Linked DNA regions of Homo sapiens. The protein of the gene in region 2 purifies or fractionates together with the protein of the main gene of each other region. This does not show direct contact. Each region holds a gene or a part of one and is shown on either strand. Other genes may lie near its edges. The genes, in order: MCEE and LYRM7.

What was found.
Region 1: the proteins of LYRM7 (region 2) and MCEE purify together in Homo sapiens (co-immunoprecipitation; one large-scale study listed by IntAct). This does not show direct contact.

The regions. Positions count from the first base shown.
Region 1 is NC_000002.12:71,120,227-71,124,049, forward strand, and holds part of MCEE (methylmalonyl-CoA epimerase, mitochondrial precursor), read right to left. Parts: intron 1-3,823. UniProt on the Homo sapiens protein: Methylmalonyl-CoA epimerase involved in propionyl-CoA metabolism.
Region 2 is NC_000005.10:131,201,754-131,206,061, forward strand, and holds the end of LYRM7 (complex III assembly factor LYRM7), read left to right. Parts: 3' UTR 1-3,675; downstream 3,676-4,308.

The DNA.
Region 1 (3,823 bases), on a different chromosome or scaffold from region 2:
CCCTTAAAGTCTTCACTGTGACACACTGTGCTGTCTGGCTAAGTTCTCCAGAGAAAGCACGGCCAGCTTTGTCTCCTCAAGCAGAGGCACGCAGAAGGCAGGGAAGGTGACCCCCCTCTTGCCATCGCAGGCAGCAGTTAGGAGCACAAACACAAGCTGTGCCAGAAAACAGTGGGTGATTCAGTCCATACTTGAGCAAGAGAAGAGATGGGACAAGATGCCCTCTAAAATTCCTCTAGTGAGAGGCAAAGACACACAAGAAATATGAGTAAACCTCACAAGAAAAAGTAGAAACCAACTCAACCTCGACAGAAAAATGCTAATTAACTATTGAGATCGTAATCCACATGTGAGAAAGGAACATTTCGTCAAGTGAGTCAACAAAAACCATGGAGCATGCACCAACAGATATATGCTAAGTCAGAGGTTTTATAAGATCCTGGTGAAAAAGGACAGAAAGTAGCCCTGTGATTACAGAGGGGAAAGCCAATTCTCTGATGAGTGGTTCAACATTTTTTTTTTTTTTCCTGAGATGGAGTCTTGCTCTGTTGCCCAGGCTGGAGTGAAGTGGCATGATCTTGGCTCACTGCAACCTCTGCCTCCCAGGTTCAAACGATTCTCCTGCCTCAGCCTCCCAAGTAGCTGGAATTACAGGTGTGCGCCGCCACGTCCAGCTAATTTTTGTATTTTAGTAGAGATGGGGTTTCACCGTGTTGCCCAGGCTGGTCTCAAACTCCTGAGCTCAGGCAATCTGCCCACCTCGGCCTCCCAAAGTGCTGTAATAAGCATGAGCCACCATGCCCAGGTGACACACCACTTTTTAAAAATCACCAAGCGTGGCATCCATTGATGGCCTCCAGTACCTTTCTCCTTTTCCTCCTTTTAATTACAGCAACCCCCAAGCTTCAGCAGGGCACATAACTGCCTAGCTAGAGACTACATTCCCCAGCCTCCCTTGCAGAGAAGTGTGTCATGTAACTAAGCTTGGGCCAATGGGATAAGGACAGAAGTGATCCTAGAGCATCTCCTTAAAGCCACTTGCCAGGTATTCCCACTCCACCTTCCCTTCCCTTCCCTCTGGCTGGCAAATGGTGATGCCTGGAGCAACCTTGTAAGTCATGTGTCATGGACAGCAGAGCTGCCCATCAGCCTGGGATAGCTAATATTAGACTGAAAACAGAAAAATAAAATCTTGTTAAGCCACTTAATTTTTTTGTGGAGGGCAGAGAATGATGATGGGGGTATTATACTAAAATAGCACCTAACTAACCACTGTTCACACCTTCTCCTCTTACCTACCTTCATTTTATATCCAATACATTTGCATGTCCCCCTTATAATCTCTGCTTTTGAATCTGCCATTACTGAACTTCCACTATTCCTTACTTAACTGAACTAAATCACATAGCTGAACTCCTTTGAAAGCATGGGCTCTCTTGATGGAATACTGATAGTGCAGTGTGGGAGAGGGGGGAGTGGATTCAAAGGTCCTGCTTCTCATCCTGGGGGGTGGGGTAGGGCTTAGACAAACACTCAGGTCCACTGACAAAGACCTGCAGCCAAAAGTAACTCCCTAAAAATAAAATAAAGGCTAATATTAGGACTTGTTTAGTTCCCTGCTTAAGGTCTTATAGCTTCCCCACCGCAAATTTAAAACTCAGTTAATATAATGAAGGCAACTGGCATCATGGGTAAGAGTGCAGACCCTGGAATCAGAACCAATCTGGGATTCAGCCCCATACCTGCTATTGATATGACCATGGGCAAATTAACTACTCTGTCTCAGTTTCCTTTCCTGTCAAATGGGGATAATAGGGCCCTCACAGGGTAGCTATGAAAATTCAAGAAAATAGTATGTGTTGAGTTACTTTGTAGACATACTACTAGAGGACTCACTAAATGTTAGTTCTTTTTTTTGAGACAGGGTCTCGCTCTTTCATTCAGGCTAGAGTGCAGTGGTGTGATCACGGCTCACTACAACCTCCACCTCAGCACTTCCTGGGCTCAAGTGATGCTCCCACATCAGCCTCCCAAGTAGCTGGGACTACAGGTGCATACCACCACACCTGACTAGCTTTTTGTATTTTTAGTAGAGACACGGTTTTGCCATTTGGCCCAGGCTGGTCTCAAACTCCTGGGCTCGAGCAATCTGCCCACCTTGGCCTCCCAAAGTGCTAAGATTACAGGTGTGTATTAGTCCATTTTCACGCTATTGATAAAGACATACCCGAGACTGGGCAATTTACAAAAGAAACAGGTTTAATGATTTACAGTTCCACGTGGCTGGGGAGGCCTCACACTCATGGCAGAAGGCAAGGAGGAGCAAGTCACATCTTACATGGATGGCAGCAGGCAAAGAGAGACAGATTGGGCAGGGAAAATCCCCCTTATAAAACTGTCAGATCTTGTGAAACTTATTCACTATCACAAGAACAGCACGGAAAGACCTGCCCCCATGATTCAATTACCTCCCACTGGTCCCTCCCACAACATGTGGGAATTCAAGATGAGATTTGGGTGGGGACACAGCCAAGCCATGTCGAGGCATAAGCCACCACACCCAGCCACTAAGTGTTAGCTGTTATGATAACTCTATGCCTTTCCACATGCAATTCCCTCTGCCTGAAATAACTTTCTCCTTTTGTTCACCTAGGGAATTCCTTCACATTCATTGTAACTTATGCTCTGTGAGGCCTTCCCAGCAACTCAATCTGCCAGGAGCAATCAATCTCCTTCATCTGTGCTACTGCAAAGTCACATATATCAATTCTACTTATCATAGTATATTGCACTTGGGTGTTTAAATTTCTGACCCTCCTCACTATGGACATGACTCATGTCTTATTCACTGCTAAATCCCAAGTACTTGGCAGAATACACATTATAGGGTCTCATACATGTTTGCAATAATGAACTGAATACATCCTTGAATTCACTCTAGAATCAAATGACCTCTCCTCTGTATTAGAAATTTGGCCTAACAGGCCAGGCAAGGTGGCTCACGCCTATAATCCCAGCACTTTGAGAGGCTGACGTAGGTGAATCACCTGAGGTCAGGAGTTTGAGACCAGCCTGACCAACATGGTGAAACCTCATCTCTACTAAAAATACACAATTAGCCGGGCATGGTGGCGCATGCCTGTAATCCCAGCTACCTGGTAGGCTGAGGCAGGAGAATCACTTGAACCCAGGAGGCAGAGGTTGCAGTGAGCCGAGATCACGCCACACTGCACTTCAGCCTGGGCGACAGAGTAAGACTCCGTCTCAAAAAAAAAAAAAAAAAGAAAAGAAAAAGAAATTTGGCTTAACAATTATGTCATTCTTTCTATAAAAAGAATTGTCCTAGCAAATTAAATCGATGCATAATTGTCATTGCTGATATTCTAAAAGGCAGTTATCTGAACATGAACATCTATAGAAATGTTCTCTAATGGACTTTTCTTGTCTAACATTTCTTCACATTCCTTTAAAAATTGTTGGCAGGTGCAATTCAGAAGATCTTAAAAATTACAGTAATTGAAAATGTATTGACTTTGTAATAACGAAGAAGTTATTAGCATTTTAAAGAGAGAAAAGAGTTATAAAGAATACTTAGCATGTACACTGAAAGCTTTAAAGTCTTTTCATTTGTTTCTCCTAATTGCCTTATGACAGTGAAAACAGCTGTATTCCTGTTACATGGGAGGTCAAACATGATCAATTCTAAAGCAGACTCTACATTGTGGCTAACTTTGGTGGCACTTACAGTGGTCACTGAATCCAGACTTCAAAAAAATACATTAATATTATATGTTAGAATTTTCTAAAGGGAAAAGAAATGTAT
Region 2 (4,308 bases):
ATATAAACATGTCAACAACAGGCTTGACTGTCACAAAATTCTGAAAGATGTCGCACTCTATTCTTATATAGCATATGCTAATTTATTTATTTATTTTTTGAGATTGAGTTCTGCTGTGTCACCCAGGTTGGAGTGCAGTGGCATGGTCATGGTCCACTAAAGCCTTGACCCCTGGGGCTCAGCAGTTATGCCAACTAAGCCTCCCAAATAGCTGAGACTAGAGGTATGCGCCACCACACCTAGCTATTTTTTTTATTTTTAGTAAGGACAAGGTCTCATTATGTTGGCCAGGCTGGTCTCAAATTCCTGAGCTCAGTTGATCCTCCCACCTCAGCCTCCCAAAGTGCTGGGATTACAGGTGTAAGCCACTGCACCCTGCCTATTCTTATAATCATATATTTATATTTCAAATGGATTTTAACTGGTTATTTAATAGTTTAATTAGATAAAGTAATTCATGGCTGGGTGTGGTGGCTCACGCCTGTAATCCCAGCACTTTGGCAGGCTGAGGCAGGTGGATTACCTGAGGTCGGAAGTTCGAGACCAGCCCAACCAACGTGGAGAAACCCCATCTCTATTAAAAATGCAAAATTAGCAGGACATGGTGATACACACCTGTAATCCCAGCTAGTCAGGAGGCTGAGGCAGGAGAATTACTTGAGCCAGGGAAGCAGAGGTTGTGGTGAGCTAAGATTGTGCCACTGCACTCCAGCCTGAGAGAACAAGACTCCGTCTCAAAAAAAGAAAAAAAGAAAACTTTTTTACACATGGGTATCTCACCATGTTGCCCAGGCTGGAGTGCAGTAGCTATTCATAGGCACAGTCATAGCACACTGCAGCCTAGAATTTCTGACCTCAAGCAATCATCCTGCCTCAGCCTCCTAAGTAGCTAGGACTACAGGTGCATACCACCATAACCAGCTTTAATTAAATGTTTTTTATTTGGTTATTTTTTTTAAGTTTTCTGTATTCACACAAGGGGTTGCCCAAATATAATTTTGCTTTGACTATTGAGATCTAGTGAAAGTGGGGTATATGAATTCTAATTGCAAATATCCAGGCTCAGAGGCCCAGCAGGACTTTCTAACACAATCTTTTAGCGGAAGTTAGAAATGGTATATAGCAGGAGAGTCAGATTTGAGAAGCATATGTAGATTCGAAGCTGGGGGAATATGGCAGGTAGTTTGTACAACATCTAATTCAGAACATTAAAATTAAGATTTTAGTCAAACTGTGTTTAAGTTAGTTCTTATTTTCCTGTAGATGCATCTCACAGCATCAGTACAATACCAAAAAAGCACACAAGAATAAGAATATGTGGAATTTCTATACCTATTGACAAAGCACATAATTTAACCATAAACACAAAGCCATAGGTCAACAAAGAAATGAAGATTCCAGTTCTGAAGGTGAGTTTTCTGAAGCCAAAGTGGATACATGCAAAATTAATATAGTTTTACTGTATATCAGTTGTCACCAATCAGAAATGGAAAACAGATCCTATTTATAATTGCAAACAAAACTGTAAAATAGACTTTTTAAAGTCTGGGAATAGACTTCTAAAATAAGCTATAACACTTAAAAAGGAGAGATATACTATGTTCCTAGATAGGACAATTGAAAATTCTGGAGATGACAGTTTTTCAAAAATCTATTGAGGCCAGGTGCAGTGGCCCATGCCTGTAGTTCCAGTACTTTGGGAGGCCTAGGTGGGTGGATCACCTGAGGTTGGGAGTTTGAGACCAGCCTGACCAACATGGAGAAACCCCGTCTCTACTAAAAATACAAAATTAGCCAGGCGTGGTGGTGCATGCCTGTAATCCCAGCTACTCGGGAGGCTGAGGCGTGAGAATCGCTTGAACCCGGTAGGCAGATGTTGCAGTGAGCCGAGATCGCACCATTGCACTCCAGCCTAGGCAACAAGAGCGAAACTCCATCTCAAAAATAGAAAAAACATTTATCGAAATCCCAACAAGTTGACAAATATATCCACATAAAAATATAAAACTTCTGTATTCTGTGAAAGCTACTATAAATAAAGTTTAGAGAAAGTTATTTGCCACCTATGTCATGATTGAAATAGTTAATTGATCCTGTGAATCAGTTAGCAAAACATAACTCAATGGAAAGATAGGCAAATGATACAAATAAGAAATTCACAAAAGAAGAAATACTAAGTCTCTAGTGATGAGAGAAATGTAAATTAAAATGAAACATGTTTGTTCATCAAGTTGTCACAAGTTAGACAATCATATCCAATATTTTTAAAGGTTGTAAGACTATAAGGAAATAGCCACTGTCATATCATTTTTAAAGGAATATAAATTATAGGGCCTTTTGTTTCTTTGGGTTTTTTTTTTTTAGAGACAAGATCTCTCCGTGTTGTCTAGGCTGGACTCAAACTTCTGGACTCAAGCAATCCTCGCAACATCATTAATAGCTGAGAGTAGAGACTTGAGCCACCACACCTGACTATAGGGCCTTTTTGAAAGGAAAATTGACATCATCAAAATTTTAAATATATTCAGTCTATTTCTCAAAAACTCAAAGAATACTAATAAATGTGTACTCAGGTATATGTACAGAAATTGCTGTAACATTATAATTTTAAACAATTTAAAACAGACTGAGTTTCCAAAGTTAGGGTACAATGAAAGAAAAGGTGGCTTATTTATACTCTGGAATATTTTCCAAGAGTTGAAAAGGATGAGGATACACACACACACACACACACACACACACACACACACACACACACACAGTTTGGGTATCCCTAATCCAGAAATTCAAATGCTCCAAAGTCCAAAACTTTCTGACCCACCAACATGACTGATGCTCAAAGGAAATGGCCACTGGAAGATTTCAGATTTTCAGATTTGGAGTGCTCAACCAGTAAGTATATAATGCAAATAATCCAAAATACAAAAAAAAAAAAAAAGAAATCTGAAACACTTCTGATCCCAAGCATTTCAGAAAACGGATGTTCATTTGTGTGTGTGTGTGTGTGTAAGCAGGTGTTGCTAGAAATTCACTTATATACAAGAAAACTTTTTGTGTACATATTTGCATATATATGTACAAATGGGTAGAAACGATACATGATTAATCTTAATCGGGAAGGAAAAGAGATTTAGGGAAGGAAGCAGTAAGTGAGAACTTTTATTCTATTTACTCCTGCACGTTTAAATATTGTTTACAGTGAGTATATCAACATGTAAGTGTTAAAAGACAATAAGCTACTAGTGATTTTTAATATAAAATTAACTATAAAATATTTTAAATATTAGCAAATAATATAGCACACTCATGAACCTAATTCCCACATTTGATAGTTGTTACATTTTGCCATGTTTGTTTAAAGGTCTAAGTCATAAAATCTTATAAAGCTAAACCCCACCCTTCTCTTTCTCCTCTCTCTCCAGGATAATTACTGTTTTATAGTTTGTGGATATCATTCCCTTACTTGTGTTTATACTTTTACCAAGTGTGTATGTATTCAAAAAACAGTTGTTTTGTGATTTTAAAATGTAAATGAATGGCGTTATGCTCCATGTATTCTGCAACTTTTCATCATACATTAGGTTTTGGCGATTTAGCCATAATTTGGCATGAATTCAGGTCTTTTAAGTTTTATTCCATTGTAAGAATAAACAAGTTTGTTCATTCATGTCTCCATTGATGAGTGATAGTATTGTCTCCAGTTTTTTTATGTTGCAAACCAATTTGCAAAAAACTCTGGCACATAGATTTTTACACCCAAGAAAAAGTTTACCTGGACATACACCAAGGAGCAGAACTGTTGAGTCCTAGCGTATGTGCATATTCAGCTTTTCCAGAAATTTCTAAATTGCTCTTTAAAATAGTTGTACCAGTTTACATTCCAATCGACAGTGTGTGAAAGGTCCCATTTCCCCACATCCTCACTGTTATGTATGATTTTTCTCATTGTCAAACTAATGGATATAAAATGGTATATTGTTTTAATTTGCATTTCTTAATTACTGGGGAGGCAGATCATCTTGTCATATGTTTATTGGCCATTATGGTTTCCCATTATGAATGTGTGTCTCTATCTTTTGTCCTCTTTTCTCTGTTGGGTTGTCTGGCTTTTTCTAACCAATCCTTTATATATTCTGGATACTAGTCCTTTGTTAATTATCTTTTTCCAATATGTGGCTTGTCTTTTAGTTTATGATAAACTTGACTGGGCTAAGGGATGCCCATATAGCTGGTAAATATTATTTCTGTGGTGTCTGTGAGGGTGTTTCTAGAAGAGATTAGCATTTCACTTGGTAGTCTCAGTAAAGA